4 linked regions of the Homo sapiens genome follow. The protein of the gene in region 2 purifies or fractionates together with the protein of the main gene of each other region. This does not show direct contact. Each region holds a gene or a part of one and is shown on either strand. Other genes may lie near its edges. The genes, in order: POLR1D, POLR3D, POLR3H and POLR2H.

Region 1 (6,113 bases), on a different chromosome or scaffold from region 2:
AATTTTCTCCTTCTGTAATATAATCAAAACATCTTACCTTACTTAGATCATGACTAAGTATATCCCAAAATTCAAGCAGTAAACTGGTATCTTTCCTGTAAATGCCTCAAAGATGGAGCCTTACTCCCTAAAACTCTCATGTAAAACCAGAATTCTCACACTTCTTCCAAATTATTCCCACCCTTGCCAAGTCTACCAATCACAGCAAATGATGCAATTCTTTAAAAGCCAAAAAGTTTAGCAAGAAGCCAAGTCCCCACCCCAATCTTCTTTCCTTCTGTTTTTAAACAACAATCTAACTGGGGTCATGGTTTTTGTCTCTTCCCTTACCCCCACCACTCCAACTACAGACATGGATATATACTTCTTTTAATTCCCATGATCACAGTTCTTGTCTAGGCCTCTGATATTCTCAGTTTCCTCATTTTCAATGCTGGCTTAATTAGAAAAAAAGTCATCCTCAAGGACCATTTGGTTGCATGGAACAGAAACCAGTCAAACTAGTTTAAATAAAAGAGGGAATTTATTAGAAGAATACAGAGGTTCTTGCAGAGATTCCAACAGCTGCAAGGGGTCAACAGCTAGAATCACGCCTTTCTGAAGGACAGAGTATGCTGTAACCACAAACTTCTAATTCTGGGTTCTGCACCATCAGGAAGAGAATATCCTACAGGACAGTTCTCCTTGTATACTGCATAAAGGACTAGAATGTGGATTCATTTCTGCTTGCTTTTTGATCCTTATAGTCCTTTATGCTGGCCTCAAACTTGTCAAGCACATGTTGGCAGACATTCATGAGCTCATTCAGGCCTCTCTGAAATGGCTCAACAGCTGGAAGGGTACCTCGAGTCTGAATGCGTAAATTAATTTTGCTCTCTGAAGGATGGGTCGTAGTGTAACCACAAAATTCCACTTCCGGGTTCTTCATGATCATGTAACGTAGAGAATTTCCTAGGGTATGGTCTTCCTCGTGCAATACAAATGTCACACAGTGTCTATCTGTTCCAGCTGCCTGGACCATTTCCAGGGCTGTCTTCCTCTCGCCTTCAGCCATTGAGGTCTTCAATCCAGATATTTTTCTACACACATATTTTTTATAAAAATGAGATCATACTGAATATTGTTTTGTAACTAGCTTTTTCTCATTTACTATATCACATTGCAACACATTATTATTAATCTACTCCAGCTACACAGAATTATTCGCCTCTCATTTTCCTGCCTCCACAAACTCTATCAATAAATATTTAATTTATTGCCTCCAGTTTTTCCCTGCTCCATTTGACCATCCACACTGGCCACAAGGGGAGTTTTCTTAGAAAAACACAAACTTAAGTGTTTGCAAAAATATTTTTTGGTAGAGTCACAAGCAAGGGATAGGATTAGAATAGGACTGGTCCTGCTAGAGGATGAAGAGAGGGTTGAAAGGCATAGAAATCCCGATTGCTCTAGTATAAAAATAGAGGATACAGATGATCAATGTGCAGGCCCAACTACGGCTTCCATTTTGCAAGAGAAGGAAACTAGGAGAATGGAAGGTTCAGGAGTCAAGCAGCAGGGAGAAAAAGAGCTCAGCGCACAGAGTGGCTTTAGGAGCAGTCTGCACATAGAAAGAAGGTGAGCCGTAGTTACAGGGACAGAGGCACGAGTACCGTCCTCAGGAGCAGAGGCCCGGGGCGTGATTTTTACACACTGCTGTTGTAACGGGGGTGGGCAGTTCGGATACTTAACTCTGGTCTCCCAACTTGTCTTCCCTCCTTGATAGCTAGTGTACCTCTCAGCCTCTCAACTGAAACACATTCATGTCTCCTCCCCACTTCTCTCTCCATGCTTCTTCTCTGCGCCCCGAGTCAGGCCCCGGCTGCCAGGCCAGGCAGCGTGCCCCTCGGCCACCCGCTCCCCTTGGGCGCGGCCCGCTCCGCCCGCCTCCTCCTCGGCCGTTACCTCTCCAGCTCCTGATCCTCTTCCATCGCTGGGGCGGTTTCTGGATCCTCAGGTGGTGCTGGCGGATCGGGGGCTCTGTCCCATAGCGCGAGGCGCGGAGGCGAAGCAGGAAGCAAGGACCGACCGACGGAAGGCGCGGAGGACGGAAGGAGGGAGGAGGAGCCGCAGCGGCGCGGCAGGGCCCAGCCGCGGGGCGGGGCATGAGGCTCCACCCCCAGCCCCCGCCCCGACGCGGGGTGAGCGGTGGCTCGCGGCCCCGCGGCTCACCTGGGCGACCACGCGAGGCCACTCGCGGCGGGAGGGGCAGGGGGCGGGGCCAGCGCCGCCTTACCCCGAGGCCCAGACAGGCCTGCGGGCGCCCCGGCTCAACTCTGGTACCTTTCCCCAGGTGATGGCGAAGGGGCGCGGCCTTACCTGCCGCCCCCAAATCACTTCCCTTCCCAGTGGCAAGTCCGAAAGCGGCCCGACTTCCCAACTGGGGCGGTGTTGACCCAGGATGGCCCTTCCTGGGACCCCGGCCCTCCCGGGCCTTTTGTGGGACGACAGGCTTAAACTGTAGTCGGTCAACACACCTTGAAGAGGGAGGGGGGTCACGTGCGAGATGAGTCACCACAGAATACGAAGGTTGAAGGCGGTATTTGTTTCACCGGGGAGCTTGCAGTTGCATTTTCAACTGGGTCAAAATAGGGCAAGAAAGAAATGTCTCTTTTGGGGGAGTGAGAGTTTGGGAGAAAACTGTTTCCCACCTTATCCTTTCCGTCCTAGGATTCCTTCTACCCCCAGAGCGCGTCCTCTCCGGCTGTAGACTTCCTTTTCCCTTTCTCCCCAGTGGCTCCTCAAACCTCCTCACCTGCGGAACCCGCCCTCACCTTTGTTCCCAGGCGCCCAGCCCCCGCCTCGGCAACCTTTCGCCGCCCAGGCTCGCTCTCCATCCAGCTCCCTGCGTCCCGGCCTTCGCTGTGCTCCCTCAGGTGCGCTTCCTCTCGAATCGGCCCTTCTTGTCCCCTCGCCGCTGGCCCCGACCCTGCCCGACTCCAGCTGTCCAGCGCAACTACGTTTCTGCTTCCCTGCGCCACCTGTTCTCCTGGCCTCCCCCCACCCCGCCCCGCGATTCCTCTGGATGTTCACTCCTTCCCCAGCTGTGCCACTCTTGGCGGCGGCCGGGGGTGCGCGCAGACACCTAGCCAGCGGGGCTTCCGCAGGGGAATCAGGCGGGCGGCGGGGACAGCCCGGGGCGAGTGGGGGAGGCGGGCGGCGAGGGCGGAGTGGTCTCACTCTAACCCGGGAGTGACGGGTCCCTTCTGGCCCGCCTCCCGAGCTCTCGGATAGGTGGAGCCGCCCTCTGGTCCGCCCACCTCCCGCCCTGTGCTACCTCCGATTGGCCCGGGTGCGGGTTGGGCCGCTCGGCCTTGGCGCTGCCCCCGGGAAGGCAGCAGGGGCGGTTGAGAAGTGAAGTCTTGGCCGGAGTTTGCTTTTTGCCAGGAAATCCGCGGCGGCGGCGGCGGCGGCGGCGATTCCTGGCGGAGCGGAGCCGGGCAGGCTCTCCGCTCCCTCAGCGGGCCGCGGAGAGCGGGAGCTGGTGCCGAGCAGCGGCGCCAGGAGCCCGTGCGCGGCCCGGGCAGCCGCGCTTTCCCAGTGAGTAACTTTGCCCTGCCCGCCTCGCTGCGCGCCCTCTCGCTGGCTGCGGGCAGCCGCCTCAGGTGCGGGCGTCAGCTGGGTGTGGGTCAGCGCCGCGCCCCGGGAGGCGGCCGGAGCGGCGCCACAGCTCGCCCCGGAGCCTTGGTCCTTCGCGGCTGTCTTCGCTCGCCCGGGCTGCGGGGCTGGCGTGGACTCGGGTGTGGGTCTGGTCCAGGAGGGAGAGTCGGCGCCCGGTGCCCGCCGCCTGCAGGCGCCCGGGAGGCGGGCGGCCTCCGGCTGTTAGCGTTTGCTGGTTCCGGCCACCGTGGTGCAGAGCTTGGCGTCGTTTGCTTCTTAAGGGAAGGGAGAGGTGGGGTGAGTGTTTAAATTTCCTCTGTGTGTGTGTGGTGTCGGCAATGAGAGTGGCACTAGCTGCCTTTATCGGGTTTTGTTCTCTGGAAAGGGATGGGGAGAGATCATTCCCTCCGCCCCAGCCTGTTGCCTGTGAATTCTCACCTTTCTCTTTAGGCTGGAGAGGGTGGGAGAGAGATTTGACATCTTCCAGGGGGTAATTTAAAAATATGAATCTTGATTTGGAAGCAGTTGCACACAAAGCATCATTCAGGAAATACATCACTCGCTTTTCAAAGCTGTATGCCACGTTTTAAACAAGGACTTTTGACTCATGTAGTGTTTCTTTTAGTATTTCAGTTTACGTTAAGTTTATGAATCCAGACGTTCGTTTGTACCAGGAGCTAAAGTACACTTATGCATGGGCTTTGCTGTGTATATTATGCTTTTTAAAATCACAGAAATCAGAAACAAAGTTGAGTGAAAAGCGGTGGCGGTGCAGGAGGAGGAACACTTGTGAGCTCCAGCTTATTGGAACTGCCTTTAAGAATTTCACATTCTTGCGGCAATAGTACTTACTTGTAAATTGGCCTTCTTCCCAGGACAGGTTTTGATATTTCTTTTGCATGTACTTCGATGCAGCACTAATGAAGTTGGATCTCAGTAGATCAATTTTATTTACTTTGCTAGATTTGATTCCCACCCCCACACCTCTTTAGAAAATGGACTTTGGCAGGTAAAGAAGGAAGCGGGAATCTGGTATCCTTTTTGGCTTGTCAAAGCTTTGTTGAGCCATGAATAACAAAGTTTTGGCTTTTTAGCTTGTCCGAGTCCCACATGTGAGTTTTCCCATGGGGTAAAAGTAGGCCAAATGAGAACCAAAGTAGAATAACATCACTTTTAATTCGGCCCACTTGTGTGTTACATTCTCCATATATCTTGTTTCTCTCATCAACTTTGAAATTTTTTCATTATTTATTCATTTAGCCACTGATAAAGTACCTACTGCATGCCAGCCATTGATGGCGGGGGTTGCTTCTTGCCCAGTTTTCTCATTTGGAAACTGATCCATGCCTTTATCCCACTAGTTACCCTGAAGTAATTTGAACTTAGGGAGCATTTCTGCCTGGAGACCTGTAAGAATAGGTGTTACGTAGGCACTTAGTCTTCAGATTGGTTTGGGATTTCGTACATTGTAGGCACGTAGCACGCAGGCCACTTAAAAATAAATGTATGTGTCTTTGGGCTGTTGTATTACGAGCTTTGCATATGGGCTTGTCTGGCCGAAGGACCCAGTGTCCGAGGTGGAGGTAGTAGTCAGGGACATGTATTATTCATTTCAGAACACTTGGCACCTTTTCTTGCTTACATTGGGCACTAAAATATTTACTGAATTGACTTGAACAGAAAAATGAAGGATTTTTTATACCAGATTAAGAAATTTGGACTTTATCCAGTCAGTGATACTGAGCTGCTAATTTTAAGCAGGAGAATGTCATGATAACGGGTAAGCATTCCAGAAAGATATCTGCAGCGTCTGGAGGATGGTGGGCTTCCAGATGGGCGATATGGAGACTAAGTTGGAGGCTGTTCTAATGGAGGGGTTAAGTGCTCAGGGATTCTCTATTCAGATTACCTGGGGTGGAATCAGGCTCTGTCATACACTGAAACCTCTTTGTTCCTTAGGTTTGTCATCTCAGAGTTTGGGGGATAGAACTTGAAAAAACATGTCTATTACTTAGAATAGTGATTGCCAGATAGTAAGGACTTAGTAAATGCTAGTGTGCTGGCAGTGGAAGGAGAAATGACGTGGTGTTTAAGAGGTATGACTAGGAGGCTGGACTAGGTAAGTGACTGGGTAGGCTTAAGGAGGGAAGGATGAATCCTGGGTTGTTTGACTTCAGGCATTGATTGACATGTACTGGGTAAGCTGGCTGTGAAATTAAAACGGGTCAAATTCTAATTCTATTACTTACCCTTAGAATAACTATCCTGACAGAACTTTGATTTCCTAACATTTGGGAAATGATTGTCGTACCTGTTGAGTAGGGTTTGAGGAATTATGCATGTAATGCCTTTGGCAGGGTACCTAGCACATTCCAAGTGCTCAGTAAATATTAGTTGTTCCTTTAGATGATGACATTAATGAGCTAGTGGAATGTTGGAGGATATGAGAAGGAGCAGTTAAAAACAATTGATGG
Region 2 (6,993 bases):
CATTTTTTTTCTGACTATATCTTAAATGTAGATGAGCCAAGTAACAAAGTCCAACTTCTGACTCAGTTTTTGGGAAGACAGATCAGTGGTTACCCCAATGGAAGGGAACAGAAGAAATGCTTTAGAAGAGCTGAGGCAGAAAGTGGCCATGCAGAGGGCTCCTAGAACTGGTGTCCCATCACCATCTCTGTTTTTTCAGATGACACCCCTAAGACCTGAGCCCCTTCTGGGCCCCACACTCCACCTGTAGAACTCTGATGGGGCCTTGTGCGGCCGAACCACAATCCAAGAGAGGTGTTCACATCATGTGTCGCTAGCCACAGCCATCTCAAGGGGAAATGCCCCAAATGTAGAAGTATCTGACACCAGGACTGGGGGTTGGAGCACTGGATGAACAGCGTGTGTGCCACTCTTTCACTGTGCACCGTCCTAAGAAAGAAGCCTGTTTCCCTTTGAAGAGCCTAGTGCTGACTGCCCAATTCAATCGGACCACGCAGGGCAGTCTGAGGATTAAAAGATGCTACCTTTAATTCCTTCGGCTAATTCAGAAGTATGTGAAACACAACATACTCATTAACATGGAAGAACTGGATGTGTGTGCATGTGGGTGTGTATTATTTATTTTTCAGAGACAAGGTTTCACCATGTTGCCCAGGCTGGTCTTGAACTCCTGGGCTCAAGTGATCCTCCCACCTCAGCTCCAGAGTAGCTGGGAACGAAGAATTGTATGTATTTCTGAGTGAGATAGAGTACACGATAAAACCACATAATTTATATCATTATAAATAACATACAAAATTTTGGAGGCTGAAATAATATACATGAGCAGTCATAAAATACAATGAAATCATGTGCTTTGCAGCCACATGGATGGAGCTTGAGGTAATTATCCTAACCTCGGAAACAGAAAATCAAATAGCACATGTTCTCACTTATAAGTGGGAGCTAAATAATGGGTACCTATGGACATAAAGATGGAAATAGCAAACACTGGGCACTCCAAAAGGGGGTGAGTGGGAGGGGGGGCAAGGGTTGAAATGCTACCTGAGTACAATGTTCACTATTTGGGTGATAGGTATGACAGAAGCCCAATCCCCACCAGTACGCAATATACACAAACACGCACATGTGGCTGGGCGCAGTGGCTCACGCCTGTAATCCCAGCACTTGGGAGGCTGAGGCAGGTAGATCACTTGAGGTGAGGAGTTTGAGACCAGCCTGGCCAACATGGTGAAACTCCCGTCTCTACTAAAAATACAAAAATTAGCCAGGTGTGGTGGCATGTGCCTGTAATCCCAGCTATCTGGGGGGCTGAGGCGGGAGGATCACTTGAACCTGGGAGACAGAGTTGCAGTAAGCCAAGATCACACCACTGGGCGACAGAGTGAGACTCCATCTCAAAAAACAAAACAGAACAAAACAAAACAAAACAAAACTAACATGCTCATGTACCTGCTGAATCTAAAATAAAATAATATACACTAAAATGTTAAAATTGATTTTAGTAGAATAAAAGGTGACTGAATATTTTAAAAAGTTATGCCTAGATGAATACTTTATGATTTTACATTGCAGCATTTTTTGAACATGGCAGCAGCTACTATGAATTGTCTATCCAACTGCCACTCCAGCTTCCTCCCTACTAACAAAACCCCAGCTCAAGGGCAAGTGTGCTCAGTGCCAGGGGATACACTAGTCGACCCATCCCCCTTTGCCAGGGCCTGGTCCAAGAGTGGGCACGTGGCCCCACTCTATAAAGAGACAGGGGGGAGGTTGCTGGAGCTGCTGACGGTTATTCCCGGATAAGGGCAGAATGAGAAGGCTCCTGTACTACTGTCCACTCTGGCTGTGGACACCATCATTTGCAGAATGATGCTTGGCGCAGGAGCAGCCATTCTGCAATACTGAGGATGGCAAAGCAGACGGTTCCAAGGAAATCCTGATGACATTTTGGCTTCCACCCAACTCTAGAACCATCTATTTACAGACTTTTTGCTATGTGAGATAAACATTCCCATTGCTTAAGCCACCGTCAGGCTAATTTTCTGTTACTTGTGCTGATCACATCCTGTTATAGGCAGTTATCTGTCTGGCACCGAATAAATGCCTCATGTTCACTCTAATTTAAAAGCAACCCTATTAAGCTACTACTGTCTCACTCTTACATAAAATAAAATAAATAAAATCAAGCTTAAAGAGGATAAGTGATTTTTTCCAACCAAAGTTACTGGTGGAGTCAGATTCAAACCCAACCGTGACTCGACAGCCTGGACTCTGCCACTTAAACATGTAGTTAGAAAAGTGTGCAAGCCTATTGTTCCTTCTTTCTGTATTTAACAGAAAGCATATACACAGATGCAGGGAGCAACAAATTTGCATCCACTTGCACTCATGTATAAATTTGGCTTTGGGCTCTTCTCCTCTGTCATCTGTCCATATTCCTTGGTAGAAATGCATGCCTCAGGGGCCTGACCAAGAAGGTGGACTCTCCTCTCTTTTCCCACACTTATTAATAAGACCTAATTTGTGCATCAGGGATCTGAGACAGGTTGTGAGGACTTTGATACGGAGTCATAAGGTTCAAGCCAAGACATCTGAATGGGCGAAATGAACGTGAAAGCAGTACATGTTCTTCCTCAAACTTTCTTGGAAGGGTCAGAAAACAGAAGATTGAAAAATACCCAATATCTAACATCGGGCCATTGAGTTCGTCCAAAAAAAGCAGAAGAGTATTTCTGAACCAAAGAAACAGAATAGAAAGAGAGGATGAGAATGGAGACCTGCTGGCCGTGCATCAGCTATTTAAAGGAAGAAAGGGCTGGAGCCCAGAGTTAACCAAAGCTTAGCCTTAGACCAAACAGGGCTTCCCAGCACAGGTTTCCAAGGAACCCTTTCTGCTCCAGTCCTCTACAGTGAGAAGAGCCCAGAATAACACTGTCCAATGGAGCTGACATGAGCTTCAGCACCAGAAAGGGTGATATGGTCACCAAATATTCAGTCAGCCTCACAGCTGCTGGCTGGGCAGGTTGAGGGCTTTGTAGGAGAAGCCCAGCCTTGACAAATGAGTAACAGGCTTGAGGAACTTTGAAAAGAAGGAAGGTGAGCCTGAAGGAAGATGTACCCAAAATCTAAGGGGCCACTAGGAATCAGGGATGGGGGTGGAGGGGAAGCGGTTCTTCCTGAGCCCCTATGGTTCATACTGTCCCAGAGGCCAGGTGCCACGACGCCAGCAAAGGGAAGTTGTGCCATCAGCGTCTAACAGCCACACACGCTGCCGCATGAGACCTTTTTCTAACCTGCAAACGTCTCCCCAGCTGAACCAGGGAAAACCCCAGCCCTACTGTCAAGACAAGAGGAGAAGCTGTTCCTCCAGGGACAACACAGTACAATGACCTGGTAAAGGGAACAGGATCACAGACCCAAAAAAGTAACACTGAGTAGGTGGCTCTGGCAGTGCTAGGACAGGAGACGGGCAGGCCTCTGAAACCCAAAGTTTTTGAAGTGGGCATCATCGGCCAAGTGTCAAAGAGGCCATTATTCAATACATCCCTAACTTCTCTTATGAAGGATTTAGTTTTTTTGTTAGCAATATATGACTTCGGCTCATACATGAGTACTAACTGCAAAGGAAAGAGTGCAGGGAACATGTCCTGGGCCCAACATGTCCCCCAAAGGCTTTTGTAGGGTGCTGGGAGGGGTCTCTGACTTCTTCCTTTCTATTACCTGCAGCTATTACAGTAACTCACACAGGAGGCACCTGGCTAACAGGAGCCAGGAGAAAAAGGCATAGAACAATCTGACACCATAAATTTAGGGCATCAGGCCCAGGGTGAGGACGGGATATAAAGCAGGAAGGGGCAAGAGTGGGGACGGGAGCAGCTCTAGTCGCTGCTTCTGGGAGATTTAGAATCTCTATTTTGTTTGAAAATAGACTCAGGTAGAGAAAAAGGACATGAACGTTTATTGAGTGCCTGCTGGTTCTGGCCTTGTGCAGTTTTCATCTATAATAGCCCATGAATCCTCACGCCAACCCTGGAGGTAGGTATCATCCCCATTTGTGTCGGATGAGGTATAGGAGGCTCAGAAAGGTTAGGTAGTTTGTCCAAGGACACAGAACCAGGAACTGGCAAGCTGGGACCGAGTGCTTAAGTCTCAGACTCAATCCTTGCTCTCTCTCCTATACTGCCTCCAGGAGGACGGGGGGAGCACCAGCAGAAGCTGCAGTCCACACGCTTCCTGCCCCTGCAACCCAGCAGGCACCAAGAGAAGCCGGCCCCTTCACACAGACCCTCCCCATCTACCCTTGGAGGATGCATCAGTGGAAGAGATTAAGACATAAATACAAAAATAAATAGCAGGGCCAAGTCCCCAGCAGCAAGGATGTGCCATCTCCACGCTGCAGGAAGGTCACTGTGCCATTCACAGCTGCTGTGGGAGGAAGCCCTGGGGGACCTGGAACAATGGTTGCCAAAGGCTGGAGTGAGTGGGCTCAGTGGGCCCCTTCTGGGTCTCACAGATTCAAGAACAAAATGTCTGGAGCAGGCAGCAGCCGTGGGCACAGGCGCCGTCCTCCTCCACCTGCTCATTTTACCGGTGTTTGTGATCCAAGAGGGATTCAAAATCAGGGGAACATACAAGTTTGTGCTTCACGTGTCCCAGGACTGTCATCTCCCCTGTCCTACTGTCTCCAAGGCCCACGGACACCAGCTCCTGCCAATTAACAGAGACAGTGATGAGAACCACCACCACGTGCCCGGCGTGTAGAGCTGTGAATGGGGACATGATACTCCCAGAAACCCCCTCCCTTATTTAGCAGTGGCTCTTCAATCCTCCTTCACTCCTGAAAGGGTCCCTCCTTGCCCCTAAGGAGGCTCTTACCTGCAGGAAGGAGCAGGCAGTTCCCATGGTCACGTCCAGAGTCACCTTGCCCAAGAGGAGTTGCACCCTTCCAGACTTGCGGATGAGTAGCTTGCCAACCTGACCCTCTGTCAGGTCAGCCAGGGTACAAGCATTCTCTGCCAATTTGGCTTCCTGCGGAGAAAACCAGAGGATGGACACTGGGCTAGGAGCTCTTTCCTCCATCTTTCATGAACCCCCTTCTACTCCCCAAGAGAAAGGCACAGCAAAGGTCAAAATGAGCTCCCCAAAGAGTGCCTTCTCCTAGGGCTGTCTGCTATGGTTAAAATACAAAACCCACAGCAAACAAATACATACACGGACAAAATATCAGTTACTGCTGAAGCTGAGTTCTGGTACATGGCGGTTTACGTTCTCTTATTTTTTTGAGACAAGGTCTGACTCTGTCGCCAAGGTTGGGGTATAGTGGCATGATCTAGGCTTACTGCAACCTCTGCCTCCTGGACTCAAGCCATTCCCCCGCCTCAGCCTCCCAAGTAGCGGGGACTACAGGCACACGCCACCATGCCTGGCTAATTTTTGTATTAGCCATGGTGTCACCACGTTGCCCAGGCTAGTCTCGAACTCCTGGGCTCAAGTGATCCTCCTGTCTCAGCCTCCCAAAGCGCTGGGATTAGAGGCATGAGCCACCGCATCTGGCCATATGTTCTCTCATTTGTGTTTGAAATATTTCCTTATAAGAAGTGAACACACACCCCCACAACACATACACAATTGGGGTTGGAGGTACAAAGCCCCATGGCTCTTGCAGGCGTCAAGAATAACCACCCATTATTGTCCCATTTCAGCCAGGGTGACACGGCTTTGCTTCCCACTACAGGTCACCACTTCCCGTCCCAGTCCCCGACTTGATTCCCGCAGGCCTCTGTCTGAGCGTACTCGGTCTTTCTCCTGCTTGATGAGCACCACCTGTCCGTCCTCGCCCTGCACCTCTGTCTTGATAGGCTTGATGTCCTGGGTGGGTGGCTGGCCAGGGAGGGTGTCTGGCAGCTGCAGAAACAGCAGTTCCTCTTCCTTGGTGAGGCTCAGCTCCCTCAGCAGCTCTGCCACAGATACATCCTTCGGGAGGCCTGGAGTCTTCCTGGCTGCTTTGGGAGGAGCCTTCATCTTGGCCTCTTCCTCCTCATCTCGTGGCTCCTCTTTCACTGCCCGGGTGATAGACATGGAATGCTATCAAGTGACCACCCTCCATACCAGCTCACTGTTACCAGCCCTTTGCCCCTGTCTGCTCCACTGTCACTCAGCCAGGGAGTGGGAAGGAGGCACCAGTTATACAGAGGGGCAAGAGACAACACGTTCAAGTCTCACATGACTTATCTAAAAAGGGACATCTGAGGCTAGGCCCACTGCTCCCTGTCAACACAGGAACCCTCTGCGAGGGAGAATGGAGCATCTTTGTTCAGCTCATGTATCTTACAGCCGGAATGGGAGGACCTGCTCACGAGCAGCAGTCAGGGGCACATGCAAGGGATGCCTGATGCACGGGATTCCTGGGGAGCAGCCATGGAATTGGAGATGAGAAGTTAACCGACAGAGTACCTTTCACAGCAGGTATGTCCACCTCCATGTCCTCTTCCTTGGGGCCAGCCAGCCAAGGTTTAACATCTGGTTCGTCATTTTCTTCCTTAAAAAGCCATCCTGAGTGAGCCAGCGGCAGCTGCACAGGCATATTTCGAGTGTCGTTCCTCAGGCCGGGGTCATCGAGGAACTGCCAAAGAGAGTCTGGGTCATCCAGCCTGCTAGCACATGCACCTGGATCAAAGTCTGCTTTAGTCCCTTTCTAACCAAAGATTCCGCTGCTCCCCAGGATTCCAGGACATCAGTAAGCTCTTCTACCCCTCACCTGGCTCCCCAGAAGCCCTGTTCTACAGCCACAAGGAAACCCCTTCCCCCAGCCTCCTGGTACCCACATCGTCCTTCTCCAGCATACGCAAGATCTGTTTAGTTTCTTCGTCTGTCTCTCTCTTCTCTTTTTTGATGTTGATGATATGAGAAGGTCCCATGTCTGACACATCCACTGTCTTATCCCAGTTCCCTGTGGGAAATCACCCAGGTCACTAGGGATCGATAAGGAAG
Region 3 (6,840 bases), on a different chromosome or scaffold from region 2:
ACGTTGCTATAAAGAAATACCTGGGCCTGGCGTGGTGGCTCACGCCTGTAATCCCAGCACTTTGGGAGGCCGAGGCAGGCAGATCACCTGAGGTCATGAGTTTGAGACAAGCCTGGTCAACATGGTGAAACCCCGTGTCTACTAAAACTACAAAAATTAGCCAGTCGTGGTGGCATGTGCCTATACTCTCAGCCACTCAGGAGGCTGAGGCAGGAGAATCGCTTGAACTCAGGAGGCGGAGGTTGCGGTGAGCTGAGATGGCACCTCTGCACTCCAACCTGGGTGACACGCACAAAAAAAAAAAGAAAGAAAAAAGAAATACCTGGCTGGTAGTGGTGGCTCATGCCTGTAATCCCAGCACTTTGGGAGGCCGAAGCTGAGGATCACTTGAGGTCAAGAGTTTCAGACCAGCCTGGCCAACATGGCAAAACCTTGTCTCTACTGAAAGTACCAAAATTATCCAGGTGTGGTGGTGCACGCCTGTAATCCCAGCTAGTCTGGAGGCTGAGGCAGAAGAATCGCTTGAAATGGGGAGGTGGAGGTTGCAGTGAGCCCTGATAGCGCCACTGCACTCCAGCCTGGGCAACAGAGCTGGTTAATTTATAAAGAAAATAGGCTGGCTGGGCACGGTGGCTCACGCCTGTAATCCCAGCACTTTGGGAGCCCAAGGCGGGTGGATCATGAGGTGAGGAGATCGAGGCCATCCTGACTAACACGGTGAAACCTCATCTCTACTAAAAATACAAAAAACTAGCTGGGCGTGGTAGCGGGTGCCTGTAGTCCTAGCTACTTGGGAGGCTGAGGCAGGAGAATGGCATGAACCCGGGAGGTGGAGCTTGCAGTGAGCCGAGATCATGCCACTGCACTCCAGCCTGGGCGACAGAGCAAGAATCCGTCTCAAAAAAAAAAAAATAGGTTTAGTTGGCTCATGGTTCCACAGGCTTTACAGCAAGCATGGTACTGGCATAGGCTCAGCTTCCAGGGATGCCTCGGGAAGCTTCCCATGATATCGGAAATCAAAGGAGGAGCAGGCACATCACATGGGGAAAAGAGGAGCAAGAGAGAGAGTGGGAGGAGGGAGGTGCTACACACTTTTTTTTTCAAGATGGAGTTTTGCTCTTGTTGCCGAAGCTGGAGTACAATAGCGCGATCTCTGCTCACCAGAACCGCCACCTCCTGGGTTCAAGCGATTCTTCTGCCTCAGCCTTCCTGAGTAGCTGGGATTACAGGCATGCGCCACCACGCCCGGCTAATTTTGTATTTAGTAGAGACGGGGTTTCTCCATGTTGGTCAGGCTGGTCTTGAACTCCTGACCTCAGGTGATCCGCCCACCTTGGCCTCCCAAAGTGCTGGGATTACAGGCATGAGCCACACGCCTGGCCACCACACACTTTTTTTTTTTGAGACGGAGTCTCACTTTGTCGCCAGGCTGGAGTGCAGTGGTGTGATCTCAGCTCACTGCAACCTCTGCCTCCCGGGTTCAAGTGATTCTTCTGCCTCAGCCTCCCAAGTAGCTGGGACCACAGGCGCGTGCCACCACGCCCGGCTACTTTTTTTTTTTTTTTTTTTTTTTTGTATTTTTAGTAGAGACAGAGTTTCACCGTGTTAGCCAGGATAGTCTCAATCTCCTGACCTTGTGATCCACCCACCTCGGCCTCCCAAAGTGATGGGATTACAGGTGTGAACCACCACGCCTGGCCCCGCCACATACTTTTAAATGACCAGATATTGGCTAGTCACGGTGGCTCATGCCTGTAATCTCAGCACTTTGAGAGGCCAAGATGGGGGGGATCACCTGAGGTCAGGAGTTCGAAACCAGCCTGGCCAACATGGTGAAATCTTATCTAAAAATACAAAAGTTAGCTAAGTGTGGTGGTGGGCACCTGTAATTCCAGCTATTTGGGAAGCTGAGGCAGGAGAATCGCTTGAACCCAGGAGGTGGAGGTTGCATTGAGCTGAGATCATGCCACTGCACTCCAGTCTGGGCGACAGAGCAAGATTCCGTCTCAAAAGAAAAAAAAAAGAAAAGGCCTGAACCGAAGCAATAGCAGTGGGAGTGGAATGAAGAGGAAACATTTGAGAGGAAGAATTAATGGTAATCCCTAAACACCTTTACTCAATGCTTCCTAGGAATGTGTTAGGGGATTGTGGGAATAAAGAGCTGAAGTAGCATTTGCTGCTGTCCTCAAGTACCTCAAATCCTATAGAAGCACACCTAAAAATAAAATCATAGATGCAGGGAAGGCCACATTTAGCATCACTGCAGCCAGTGTCACTGAGAGATCACTATGCTTGTGAAATCAGCAAATTAAGGCACCATACATTTCCAAGTGCCTCTGTCATTTACCCCAAGTATCTTTTGTAAGTACCTAAATTGTTATTTTGGTTAAAACACACTACAAGCCCGGGCGCGGTGGCTCACACCTGTAATCCCAGCACTTTGGAAGGCTGAGGTGGGCAGATCATGAGGTCAGGAGATCGAGACCATCCTGGCTAACACGGTGAAACCTCGTCTCTACTAAAAAAAAATACGAAAAATTAGCCAGGCGTGATGGTGGGCGCCTGTAGTCTCAGCTACTCGGGAGGCTAAGGCAGGAGAATGGCGTGAACCCGAGAGGCGGAGCTTGCAGTGAGCCAAGATCGCGCCACTGCACTCCAGCCTGGGCGACAGAGCGATCCTCCGTCTCAAACAAACAAACAAACAAAAAAACCCACTACAGTATACATCTACACCCCACCAATTTTTAGAGGCAGGGTAGTGAGGTTCAGACTGGGCCCACCTCTACCACTTGTCAACACGTGATCTTGGGTAAGCTACCAAATTCTCTTAGCCCATGCTATCACGTGAAGATGAATGAGACTGGAATGTCAGCGAGACAGAGCATGATGGGGCTATAGGAGGGGGGTATGGTCAGATCTTGCAGGGCCGTGTGAACTACCATAAAGGTTTTGGACTTTTCTTCTTTCTTTCTTCTTTTCTTTCTTCTTTCCCTTTTCTTTCTTCTTTCTTCTTCTTCTTCTCCTTCTTCTTTCTTCTTCTTCCGCCTCTCCTTCTTCTTCTTTTTCGTTTAGACATGAGGTGTCACTGTCACCCATGCTAGAGTGCAGCATGCAACCTCAAACTGCAACCTCAAACTCCTGGACTCAAGCGATGCTGCTGTCTCAGGCTTCTGAGTAGGTGGGACTACGGGTGTACACCACCACGCCCGGCTTGGATCTAGTATTCTAAGTTCAATGGGTTGTGTTTTTTGTTCCAATTTATTATAACTTTTCAATTGGAACATAATGTCTACAAATAAATGCAAAAATCTTGCCGAGTTCAATTAGTTTGGACAATTATATACGTCAATGTTATACCACCGAAAACAAAATACAGAACATTTCCATCATCTCAGAACAGTCCCAAGTGCCCCTTTCCTGCTAATTCTCCTTGTCTCCGGAACACTTAAGGGTGCTAAGCATGTTATGTTTGCGGTGGGTTTTTTTTTTAACTTAGATGTGGTAATATATGTTTGCGTTTCCAAAGGATCACTCTGGCTGCCGAGCAGAGGACAGCAATGCGGGTAAAGCACAGGCCAGGCGAGGGATAATCAGGCGGGATTGCACGGAGGTCGCCTAGCAACAGAAAGCGCTGTCGGGGGCGGGGGAACCGCTCTGCTCCTGTGAAAGGAGGAGGCCCCGCCCTCTCCTCGCCCTCTCTCTGCCCCACGCTGTGCGCGAGCACACAGGCAGCCCCGCCCCGCCTCGGCGGGGTGGGGGTGGACAGAGGTTTCTTATTGGTGAGTTTTCCGGAAGCGATGGATTCGGAATCTCGCCCGCAGTCGCGCAAGCGCGAGCGGCTGTGCGCGGTGCGTGGTGCGTGGTGCGTGATACGAGCGGCGGCACGTGGCGCGGGTGCGGGGCGTGGAGTGGCGTGGCGTGGAGTGGCGTGGCGTGGCGGGGTCTCGCGGCGCGGGCGCGCACCCGGAGCTGTGGACGGAGAGTGCCTCCCTCTGGCCTCAGTTTCCTCATGTTGTAGTAGCGGAGCATGGCCCGGACCGGGCCCCCGAGACCGCCCCGTGCAACCTCACCGCCAGCCTGGGGGCCTCAGCGACTGGGACGGGACCAAGGGGCTCGGGGATTCTCCCTGCCCCCGGCCCTGGTGCGTGACTGACCCTCCTGTTCCCAGAGCCCCCAGCGCAGGCCGGGATGTTCGTCCTGGTGGAAATGGTGGACACCGTCCGGATCCCCCCTTGGCAGTTTGAGAGGAAGCTCAACGACTCCATTGCCGAGGAGCTGAACAAGAAGTTGGCCAACAAGGTACTGGGCCCACGGCTCGCGGGCAGGCCTTGGCGTGGGAGAGCGAGCGCCGCCCACTGGCCGCAGGCCCGGCCTCGGTCATGCCAAGCCCTGGCCGTGGGCAAGCAGCTTAATGTCTCAGAACTTTTCTTCACCGTGAAAGGAGATATTGAAGGGGATCAAAAGAAAATGGGCTTGAAAAAGGGAGTTGTAACTGGAAGTGTTAGATTCCACAATTCTAAATTACTTTGCAATTGCAGGCAAGTTACTGACCCCTTCTGGGCCTCAGTTTCCATTTTTAAAATGGGGATAAAATATTGCTGTCCTTCCAGCCATGCATTGTTTTTGTTGTTGTTGTTGTTTGTTTTGTTTTGTTTTGTTTTTTGTTTTTGAGACGGAGTCTTGCTCTTTCGTCCAGGCTGGAGTGCAGTGGCGCGATCTCGGCTCACTGCAACCTCCGCCTCCCGGGTTCAAGCGATTCTCCTGCCCCAGCCTCCCGAGTAGCTGGGACAACTACAGGCGCGCGCCACCACCCCCAGCTAATTTTTGTATTTTTCGTAGAGACGGGGTTTCACCATTTTGGCCAGGATGGTCTCGATCTCTTGATCCCCCCGCCTCGGCCTCCCAAAGTGCTGGGATTACAGGTGTGCGCCATCGCCTCGGGTCAATGCATTGTTTTCGTGAAGATGGAGAGTTCTAGTAGTACAGAATTAACTGTCAGGAGGTTCATCCCTTCATTCCAGCAGCCAATATTTGTGCGCCTTCTCTGTGCTGTGCCTGTGTGCCTTAGTACCAGCTGAGAGGTCTTCCCACTGCCGTTTCTTTGACAGTCCTCCCTTTCCAGGTATTCTGTGTCACATCACTCTCTTTCCTTCTTAGACTTTTTCCTTTCCCTCTCCTTGAGAGCAGGGACCTTATCTGCCTTCTTCCCTGAAGTATCCCCTCATTTAGCCAAAGCCTGGCGGGAGTAGATGTCCCATAATTTTCTGTTTTGTGTTTGTGTGTGTGAGACAAGAGTGCCGCTCTTGTCGCCCAGGCTGGGGTGCAATGAAGCGATCTTGGCTCACTGCAACCTCCACCTCCCAGGTTCAAGCTATTCTTCTGCTTCAGCCTCCTGAGTAGCTGGGATTACAGGCACCTGCCACCACACCTGGCTAATTTTTGTACTTTTAGTAGAGACGGGGTTTCACCATGTTGGCCAGGCTGGTCTCAAACTTCTGACCTCAGGTGATCTGCCTGCCTCAGCCTCCCAAAGTGCTGGAATTACAGGTGTGAGCCACCGTGCCCGGCCATTTGTTGACTGAATGAATGAAACAGAGACAAGGCTCTGTGCTATAGTGTGGTGGGAAAGCAGATATGAATGAGAAGGGTCCACAGTTGAGTGTTTGGTGACAAATTGAGGTAAATGTTATGAGGGACAGGTGTTCACACACCTGTGGAACAAAGGAACGTCCCCTGGAATGAGGGGACCTGCAGCTTTGTTGAGGAGGTGGGGTTGAAGGTGAGATCTGATGGTGAAGTGGAGCCAACCAGAGGATTCCTTTCTAGGGTGGGAGGGGGCTGGGTGGAGAGAAGAGCCCTGAAGGCAGGAACTGGCATGTGCAAAGGCCCTGTGAAGAAGGAATACAGGCCGGGCGTGGGGGCTCACACCTGTAATCCCACCACTTTGGGAGGCTGAGGCGGGTGGATCACCCAAGGTCAGGAGTTTGAGACCAGCCTGTCCAACATGGTGAAGCCCCATGTCTACTAAAAATACAAAAAATAGCTGGGCATGGTGGCAGGCACCTGTAATCCCGGCTACTTGGGAGGCAGAGGGAGAAGAATCACTTGAACCCAGGAGGCAGAGGTTGCAGTGAGCTGAAATCGCACCACTGCCTTCCAGCCTGGGTGACAAGAGTGAAACTTCGCTTCAAAAAAAAAAGAAGAAGGGGTAAAATACCCACCATGGTGTGGAAGAGGCTGGTGTGGCTTGGGCAGAGGGGAGGGTGGGCTGGACAGGTGGGTGGGGGCCAGGCCACACAGCCCTGTAGGATGTCGGAGTTGAGGTATTGGTCTTTATCCGTGGAGCATCAGAAGGTGATGGGCTGAGAAGGAGCCAGAAAGAGGATGCTTAGCTGGCTTTACGCATGAGACAGGTCCCTTCAGAAGAGGTGAGGTTGATTTGGGGGTTGCTAGATAGTGAAGGGAACTCATGGAGTCTTTAAGTGGATGGCTTCTGGTTACTTTGTGAGGTTGAAGATGAGGGTCTGTTGGGGGATGGAGGTGTGGACCTTGAGAGAGAAGGTGTGGAAAGTCCAAGAAGGGAATATAGTCCCTTTGGGGTAGAGGTCCTGTTGGGACAAGTCTTCTAGTATTTGATTAGATGAATCGTTTGAGAGGGGGCCCACACAGAAATCCATGGTCTGACAAAGGGCACAGATCTTGTGGCATTATCTTGGTGAGGTCTGGCCACGACTCTGAGTTCTCTGAGCTTCTTGCTAATTCTTGGACAGTTCTTGCAAGGGTTCTAAGTGGGGGTGATGACACGGTGGCAGATAAGGAGACACTGAGTAGCCAGTCGTT
Region 4 (7,862 bases), on a different chromosome or scaffold from region 2:
CTGACTCTGGGCAAGTTATTCAATCATCCAAAGGTTTTCTCTTTCTATGCTAGGCACTGTGCTGAGGGGAGTGACCAAGATGTATAAGAACTGGTATCCGTCTTGAAAAACATCTTAGTCTCCAGGCAAAGAAAGAGACATCAAAGAGAAAATTATTGATAGATGACAAAATAAAGAGGTGTAGGCCGGTGCAGTGGCTCATGCCTGTAATCCCGACATTTTGGGAGGCCGAGGCAGGTGGATCATTTGAGATCAGGAGTTTGAGACCAGCCTGGCCAACACGGTGAAACCCTGTCTCTACTAAAAATACAAAATTAGCCAGGCGTGGTGGCGCATGCCTGTAATCCCAGCTACTTGGGAGGTTGAGGCAGAGAATCGCTTGAACCCGGGAGACGGAGGTTGTGGTGAGCTAAAATCGTGCCACTACACTCCAGCCTGGGCAACAGAGAAAGGCTGCGTCTCAAAAAAAAAAAGGTATATACCAAGCAGCTAACTCTAACTCAAAGAAGACTTCACAAAGCGCTAAAGATTCTGAGGGCAATACAAGAATATAGGCTCTGAAGTCAGATTACTCGCTGTGAAGCCTTGGGTGGTTTACTCAACCTCTCAGAGAAAAATGGGAAAGGCACCACCCACCTCATGAGGACTGTCATTTTTTTGAGACGGAGTCTCGCTCTGCCGCCCAGGCTGGCGTGCAGTGGCGCGATCTTGGCTCACTGCAACCTCCGCCTCCCAGGTTCAGGCAATTCTCCTGCCTTAGCCTCCCAAGTAGCTGGGATTACAGGCGCCCGCCACCACGCCAGGCTAATTTTTGTATTTTTGGTAGAGACGGGGTTTCACCATGTTGGCCAGGCTGGTCTCACAAGACAGTGTCTAGCACAGAGCAGGTAGCGATTATAAATATGCCTAGGAGTTTGCCAGCACCATGACAAAAGGCCACCCAGGCACCGGGCACGGCATGCGTGAAGCCAGAGAGAGCTCGGGAGTCTCCGTTTTCTCATCCATAAAATGTTTACTGAGGGAGGTCCCTACACCAGGACCTGCTGGTAGGGGCAGGCCACAAGAGCTGGGTGGACACGGGGCCCAGGGGCATGTCCGCGAGGTTAGCCTCTTCCTCCAAACCGCCCCTACATACCTTACTTACCTCGGTCAAACTTCTTGCCCTCCGGGTCAATATCCTTCACATCGAAAATATCCTCAAACAGGATGCCCGCCATCGCGAGGGGGCCACGAGAGCAGCAGAAGGGGTGAGAGCGCGACCACAGTTGGGAGTACGTGCACCCCCTAGCGTGGACAAGACCGGAGAGAACCAAAAGCACCTCCTGAAAGCGCGGCGGCCAGACGAGAGTGGCGCATGCGCACAAACAAGCGGTAACGCGACCACTTCCGCCACAGCCTCCCGCTCGGGGCTACTTAACTTCCGTCCCGAAAGATTGCTTCCGAGAGGCTTCGGCATTGAGGGCGGGTCTCATGTCCAGGTGGCTCTGCCCAGGGCGGGGAAGCAATAGGCTGTAGAGCGGGTTCTCGCGCTCCGCTGGGGCCCTACTGCGCCCTCTTCAGAGGCCGGGTTCCGAAGACTGGAATGCGTGGGGGCCTAACCCAGGCAGGGACCTTGATCCTTGGCCCAGAGAAGCCGGGCCCTAGCCCTACCCCGCCGGTCCGCGTGCCCGCCGAGGGCACAGTCCGCGCCGAGGGCAGGTGGAGCAGAACCCCGCCCCAGAGGTGCCCAGCCCCTCCAGCCGGCACCGAGGACCCCGGGGCCGGCCTGGGCCGGCTCGGCCCTGCTGGACGTAACCCGAGCCGGATCCGTCCAGTTTGGGAATTTGCCATGACGTCGCTATGGAGAAGAGGAAAGCCTGCATTGTCCCCTCCTCTCGTACTGCACCCTCCCACCACTGCCCTCCCTCTTCCCCCCAGGCCCTGCTCTCTTCCCCTACACCGCCCCTTCAGCCGGGCTCCCGCCACCCCCCTCCCCCGGGCATTACCCCTCCAGCTTAGTGCTGCGCGTTCCCCCTCCACTGCCTTCTCCTGGACACGGATCCCCTCCGTGCCCCTTCAGCCTGGCACTGCCCTGTCCCTTGGATACCAGCTCTTCCCTCACACTGGCCCTTCCTCCTGAGTGCTGGCTTCTATCACAAGGCCCCCCCTTCCCGGGCACTGCTCCCGCCCCCTGAGCCCCGCCTCTGCCTCCCAAATGCCCCTTACTCCTGGTGCTGGCTCTCCCGCACACTTGTGCGTTTCCTGGGCGCTGCCCTCGCTCCTCTCACACTATCTCTACGCTGCCCATCCACCCTGCGCGCGCTCCGCCCTCTGTTCTATCCTTCCCCAGCCCCTGATAGAGAACCCAGAACACCAGCAGGCAGTTCCCCCAAAGCGGAGGGATGGAAGCAGCGACTTGGGTTCCTCCTTGGGCCCAGCCAGGGAGAAGCGACCCACGCCCGCGTCCCAGGAGTAGACTTCCCGGCACCTGGAGCTCCCTTCCCTCCGGCCTACCCCTTCCGGTGCCCTCCCCAACCTCCACCCCCGCACACCCCGCAGGCCCGGTTGCTCCAAGTGCACCTACCCACGGGAGCCCCGAGAAAAGGAAGGATGAGGAAGACGGCCCCAACCCTCTCCGAATCCTTCCAGCTTTGCTTTTCACCCCTGACGGGGCAGAGGGGCCTTCCCAGGCCTGTCTGGGCCGCTCGTCTCTTCGGAGGGGCAGAGGGGAGGCGGCTCCTAACGGGCTGACCCGGAGGAGTCCGATGTAGACAGCTCCGCAGCCCCCAGCCCCAACCCCTACGGAGCTCAGGCGTCTGCAGCCCCTCCTGCCTGGGCACGGGGAACCGCGAACCCGGGCCGGCCCCTCCACGTGCCAGTAGACCCGCCCCTCCCGGGCGCCCCTCTCCGACCCGGGCATCCGCAGGGAGCCGGCGCGGGCTTGCGCCTTCCCAGCGCCCCTTGCCGCCTCTCGGGAGGCCCCGCGCGGACCCCAGCCTGGCTGGGCCGTCCCCTCCGGATGGGCCGGCGGGCGGAGCAGCGCAGAGGGCACCGCCCTCGGCCCGCCCGCCGGGGAGGGGACGCGAGCGGGAGGCTGCGCCAGCGGCGCCCGCCGGGGGCCCGCCGCACTCTGCTCTCGGCCTCCCGGGCTGCGGGGACGGGACGGCTGCCGGCGCGGACTTTGCGGGCCGGGAGCCGAGTCCAGGACAGAGCCGGAACCGCCGAGGGAGGCGAGAGGGCAGTGCGCGGAGATGGCGGCCGCGGCGGCGGAGGAAGGGATGGAGCCACGGGCGCTGCAGTACGAGCAGACCCTGGTAAGTGAAGCTGAGCTGAGCCCCAGGAGTGCGCTCCGGGACCCCTGCTCCAGGTTACCCTGGGAAGCGCGAGGACCAGGGGCCTACCCTAATCCTGTCCTAGCATTTTGAGCTGGGGAAACTGAGGCTTGGAAGTCTGAGGCTGCAGGGCCGAAGGGATGGAAAACTGCATGCTGGTTTCTGGCTGAGGCTGAGGGCCTGCAGAGGACAAGGACACCAGGTACTTGTCTCAGGTGTCCTTCCCCTCACCCCACAACATGCACGTTTTCTTTGCACCTCCCCTTCACCACCTGGGCCCAAGTCTCAGCACCCCACTGCCCCTTCCGCGGCACCATTCACACCATTGAACTTTCTCTACGCCACTATCTCCACCACCCAAGACATTCTCTGTGTCCCTGCCATGTGCATGGCACCATGCTAAGCATAGAATCGAGTGTGTAGAAAGATGGTCAGCCCCAGACCCTACCTCTGGAGGCTCCACACCCAGCGTTGGCTCCAGGAGCCCCTCAGTTGACTCTGGAAAAAGGTGGCTTGCCACTCTGGGGGACAGGAGCTTTAGGGAGGGTGGGTGAAGCAGGAATGGGTGTGGGAATTGGGACCTTTGTCTATGCTGATGCGGGGTATCCAGCCCCCACCCACCCCAGGGTGTGTCCCCTGACCTCATTAGAAGCAGGGGTCCTGGGCTCTGAGCTGACTTATCGCCCCCATTGTTACTTGGTGTTTGAGAAGCCACGTGACCCTCCTCATGTCACTGGGGTGGAAGACCCAAGCCCTAGGGAAAGGAAGGGGCCCGTGGTTCCTTTTTACCAGCTTGGGCTGGAATTTGCCCAGGAAGGTGGCAGGGAGGGAACGTCTTGGAGAGGAGAGGCTATAAGTCTGGGAGGTGCCCAGTTAGGAGAAAGTAGCTGGATGAATCAGGATGTCAGGGAGAGGTGGGAGTAGAGCAAGGGTAGAGGGGCCAACCCTTGGGATGGGGTAGGAGACACTTGCCAATCTGCCCAGACCAGGATAGGAGCATGGTCAAGGAAGCCAGGCACCTGGCCTCTGAAATGGTGCCTCTTAACACCAGCCACCTCTCCATCTCCGTCCCTTCCAGCTGTCTCTGGAATGAGCTCTCAGGGTCGAGCTCTGTCCCGGGCACTCTGTGCTCCAGCCTGCTCCCGCCCCCCTTCACCATCCTATCCCTTTGTCTTTCTCTCCCACTCTCACCTCCCTCCTCCTACACCGTGCTTGCCTCTTAATACTCTCCATTCTCTTCCTCCTCCGTACTTCTTCCTCTCTCATCCCCTTCTTTCTCTTCTCCATCCCTTCGCCTTCCCTCTCTTTTCTCTTCTACTTTCTCCTCTCTAGTTCCCTCTCTTCTCTTTGCTTTCCCTTTCCTATCTCTCACCCTCTCTCTGTCTCTATCTTTCCCTCCCTCCCTCCCCCCCATCCCAGCCCCAACAGGAGCCCTTTGTGTCCCGAAGCTCTGCGGGTGGCAGCCAGAATCTACTCCTCCCCGCCCCCCAACACACGCCCAGCTTGGCAGGTCTAGCCATGGTTCAGGCGACTCTCCCGTCCCATCACCCCAGCATCCACAGTCACAGCCCAGCCATCCTCAGCCTCCGCTGTCCCCCAACCCACCGCTGGGCTCAGTGCAGCTCCAGAATGGGGCTGAGGCCACCAAGCCCTCTCCACCCACCCTAAGTGAGAGGCTTTCCACTCCCAGCTGGGCTGGCAGGCTGGTGGGGGTGGCAGTGGAGAATGGGGACAAGGGGATTAGGGTGGGTGGGAGAGGTGCAGCTGAGTTGGTCACAGGCCGGAGGCCCAGCAGGAACGTGATAAGGATTGGGGCTGCGCCTGCTCCTGGGCCCAACTCAGCTGCCCCGAGCTCCACGAGGCTCTTATTGTTGCCCATGTGCCCCTGATCATCCCTTACTCCCTGGCCTTCCCGCCTCCCACTTTTAGACTGTGCCACAGGTTTTTCCACCTTTTCCTCTTCTGGGGCTTCCCTCTCACTCCTCTTCAGTGCCCCAGCCCCAGGCCTGTGAGAAGAGGACCGATTATTCTGCCACCCCCAGAGCTGTGTCCCTGTACCTTGGCTGTCCCCATCACTCTGGCCAGGACAGCCTCCACAGTCTGCAATGTGCATTGTTCCCACACCTCGGGCCAGAGTGGGAACTGTGCGTTCAAGAGGGATATCCAGTGTGGGGGCTGGGAGAAGAGGAGTGGAGGCTCTAAGAACTCTCCCTGCGTTCCCACTCAGCCCATGACCTCGAATGCCCCCATCCCCTCTGTTGCTCCAGATGTATGGCCGGTACACTCAGGACCTTGGGGCCTTTGCCAAAGAGGAAGCTGCTCGGATTCGCCTGGGAGGGCCTGAACCCTGGAAAGGTCCCCCTTCCTCTCGGGCTGCCCCAGAGCTCTTGGAATATGGACGGAGCCGTTGCGCCCGATGCCGCGGTGAGAACTGGGGTGGGGGCAGGGGACCTGGCTGTGCTGTGCTGAGGGAAGCAGAGGCCATTAGAGCTGCTGATGGGGGAGAGGGGACAGTTGAGGGGGCAGTAAAAGGGGTAGGAGCACTTTGGTGCCATCCTCCCCCTTCTTCCCTTCCCTGCACCCAGTCTGTTCTGTCCGCTGCCACAAGTTCCTAGTATCCAGGGTTGGTGAAGATTGGATCTTCCTGGTCCTGCTGGGGCTTCTCATGGCATTGGTCAGCTGGGTCATGGACTATGCCATTGCTGCCTGTCTGCAAGGTGAGGGTGACAGCTGGCAGGGGGAGGACTGGGAATAAACCTCCTGCGTCCATGCCACACTCGTCTAGACATGGAGGAAGGCGTCTTGGCTTCTTGGCCACTGACCACTTTCCCCAGCCAGTCTGACTGCCCAGATTCAGGCATCATCTCGGCCACTCCCACAGGGCACAGCTTCTTGCATCCCCTCTCCAAGTGATCCTCTTGCCTAGATTGCGCTTTGTCCCAGTGAATACCCTCAGGGACCCTTTCCTTCACCCATGCCCTGACTCTGTGTGGTACTCCCTGGGACAGCCTGTCGTATCAGCGTGGTCCACTGGCCAGGCAGGCAGTGGGTGTGTGCACTGGGGGTCCAGCAGGTCCTCTTCCCACAGCCCAGCAGTGGATGTCCCGGGGCTTGAACACCAGCATCTTGCTCCAGTACCTGGCCTGGGTCACCTACCCTGTTGTCCTCATCACTTTCTCAGCCGGATTCACACAGATCCTGGCCCCTCAGGCTGTCGGTATGTTAGAAGAGAAGGGGAGGGCAGAGGCGGGACCCCTGAAATGGGTGCATCGAATGCCTCTCCTGAGACTGTTCCCTCTCCAGGCTCTGGCATCCCTGAGATGAAGACCATCTTGCGGGGAGTGGTGCTGAAAGAATACCTCACACTCAAGACCTTTATAGCTAAGGTCATTGGGCTGACCTGCGCCCTAGGCAGCGGGATGCCGCTTGGCAAAGAGGTAACTGCAGGCTGGGGAATGAAGGAGTCCCTCCTGGTGGAAGAGGAGGCCAGGCCAAGGTCAGGGCGGGCCCCCTCCCGACTCACCGCCTGCCCCACCCCGCAGGGCCCTTTTGTGCATATCGCAAGCATGTGTGCTGCCCTTCTCAGCAAGTTCCTCTCCCTCTTTGGGGGTATCTATGAGGTAAGGGGAACCCTGGGGCAAGTAGGGGGCAGAGGCTGCTGAGCCCACAGCTGACCCCCTCTTGCCACCACTCTCGCCAGAATGAATCCCGGAACACAGAGATGCTGGCTGCCGCCTGTGCCGTGGGGGTGGGCTGCTGCTTCGCGGCACCTATTGGAGGTAGGCAGGGCTCCTAGGTCAGTCCAGCCCCACAACCCTGCCCTTGGCCTCTCCTCCTTGGCCCCTCTTATCTGGGTCTGAGGCCTTAGGCCAGGCCCAGGCCTCAAGTGCTGGTCTCCCTCCCCCTCACAGGCGTCCTCTTCAGCATCGAGGTCACCTCCACCTTCTTTGCAGTGCGGAACTACTGGCGGGGCTTCTTCGCTGCCACCTTCAGTGCCTTCATCTTCCGGGTCTTGGCAGTCTGGAACCGGGATGAAGGTGGGGGCACCCAGGGGATGAGGGCAGCCCGAGATGGTGCCAGGTAGGGGGCCCACGAGGCTAGGCCTGCCTCCCTCTGCTGTTCTTCCCTTTAGAGACTATTACAGCCCTCTTCAAAACCCGATTCCGGCTCGACTTCCCCTTTGACCTGCAGGAGCTGCCAGCCTTTGCTGTCATTGGGTGAGGAGCTGAGGGGGCTGGGGGTATCAGAGAGGAGGGGGGTTTCTAGAAGGCTCCTTTTCACTCAGGTGCCTCTTCCCTTTCCAGTATTGCTAGTGGCTTCGGTGGAGCCCTCTTTGTCTACCTGAACCGGAAGATTGTCCAGGTGATGCGGAAGCAGAAAACCATCAATCGCTTCCTCATGAGGAAGTGAGTGGCTCTCGGCTCCTCTCCAGGCTGCTTTGAGTTGTATAAGGGCCACAGTAGGTCAGGGGACAGTGATGGGGAGAGAATGGCCCAGTCAAAACAGGCACTTCACTGAGAAATCAGCCAGCAGTGTTTTCCAGGCTGACTG

What was found.
Region 1: the proteins of POLR3D (region 2) and POLR1D purify together in Homo sapiens (affinity purification with mass spectrometry; 8 studies listed by BioGRID and IntAct, with this or other methods). This does not show direct contact.
Region 3: the proteins of POLR3D (region 2) and POLR3H purify together in Homo sapiens (affinity purification with mass spectrometry; 8 studies listed by BioGRID and IntAct, with this or other methods). This does not show direct contact.
Region 4: the proteins of POLR3D (region 2) and POLR2H purify together in Homo sapiens (affinity purification with mass spectrometry; 4 studies listed by BioGRID and IntAct, with this or other methods). This does not show direct contact.

What each region holds. Positions count from the first base shown.
Region 1 is NC_000013.11:27,617,841-27,623,953, reverse strand, and holds POLR1D (DNA-directed RNA polymerases I and III subunit RPAC2), read right to left. Parts: upstream 2,063-6,113; 5' UTR 1,971-2,062; coding exon 1,945-1,970; intron 1,080-1,944; coding exon 704-1,079; 3' UTR 505-703; downstream 1-504.
Region 2 is NC_000008.11:22,248,113-22,255,105, reverse strand, and holds the end of POLR3D (DNA-directed RNA polymerase III subunit RPC4), read right to left. Parts: intron 6,953-6,993; coding exon 6,828-6,952; intron 6,626-6,827; coding exon 6,457-6,625; intron 6,063-6,456; coding exon 5,797-6,062; intron 5,032-5,796; coding exon 4,879-5,031; intron 4,711-4,878; coding exon 4,588-4,710; 3' UTR 505-4,587; downstream 1-504. UniProt on the Homo sapiens protein: DNA-dependent RNA polymerase catalyzes the transcription of DNA into RNA using the four ribonucleoside triphosphates as substrates.
Region 3 is NC_000022.11:41,541,450-41,548,289, reverse strand, and holds the start of POLR3H (DNA-directed RNA polymerase III subunit RPC8), read left to right. Parts: upstream 1-3,819; 5' UTR 3,820-4,188; coding exon 4,189-4,299; intron 4,300-6,840.
Region 4 is NC_000003.12:184,356,848-184,364,709, reverse strand, and holds the start of POLR2H (DNA-directed RNA polymerases I, II, and III subunit RPABC3), read right to left. Parts: upstream 3,001-7,862; 5' UTR 2,564-3,000; intron 2,470-2,563; exon of another isoform or gene 2,206-2,469; intron 2,105-2,205; exon of another isoform or gene 1,986-2,104; intron 1,838-1,985; 5' UTR 1,218-1,837; coding exon 1,145-1,217; exon of another isoform or gene 1,136-1,144; intron 1-1,135. Other genes in the region: CLCN2 (chloride channel protein 2), read left to right, coding at 3,231-3,293, 5,579-5,735, 5,897-6,028, 6,400-6,528, 6,615-6,748, 6,854-6,931, 7,012-7,090, 7,223-7,348 and 2 more. UniProt on the Homo sapiens protein: DNA-dependent RNA polymerase catalyzes the transcription of DNA into RNA using the four ribonucleoside triphosphates as substrates.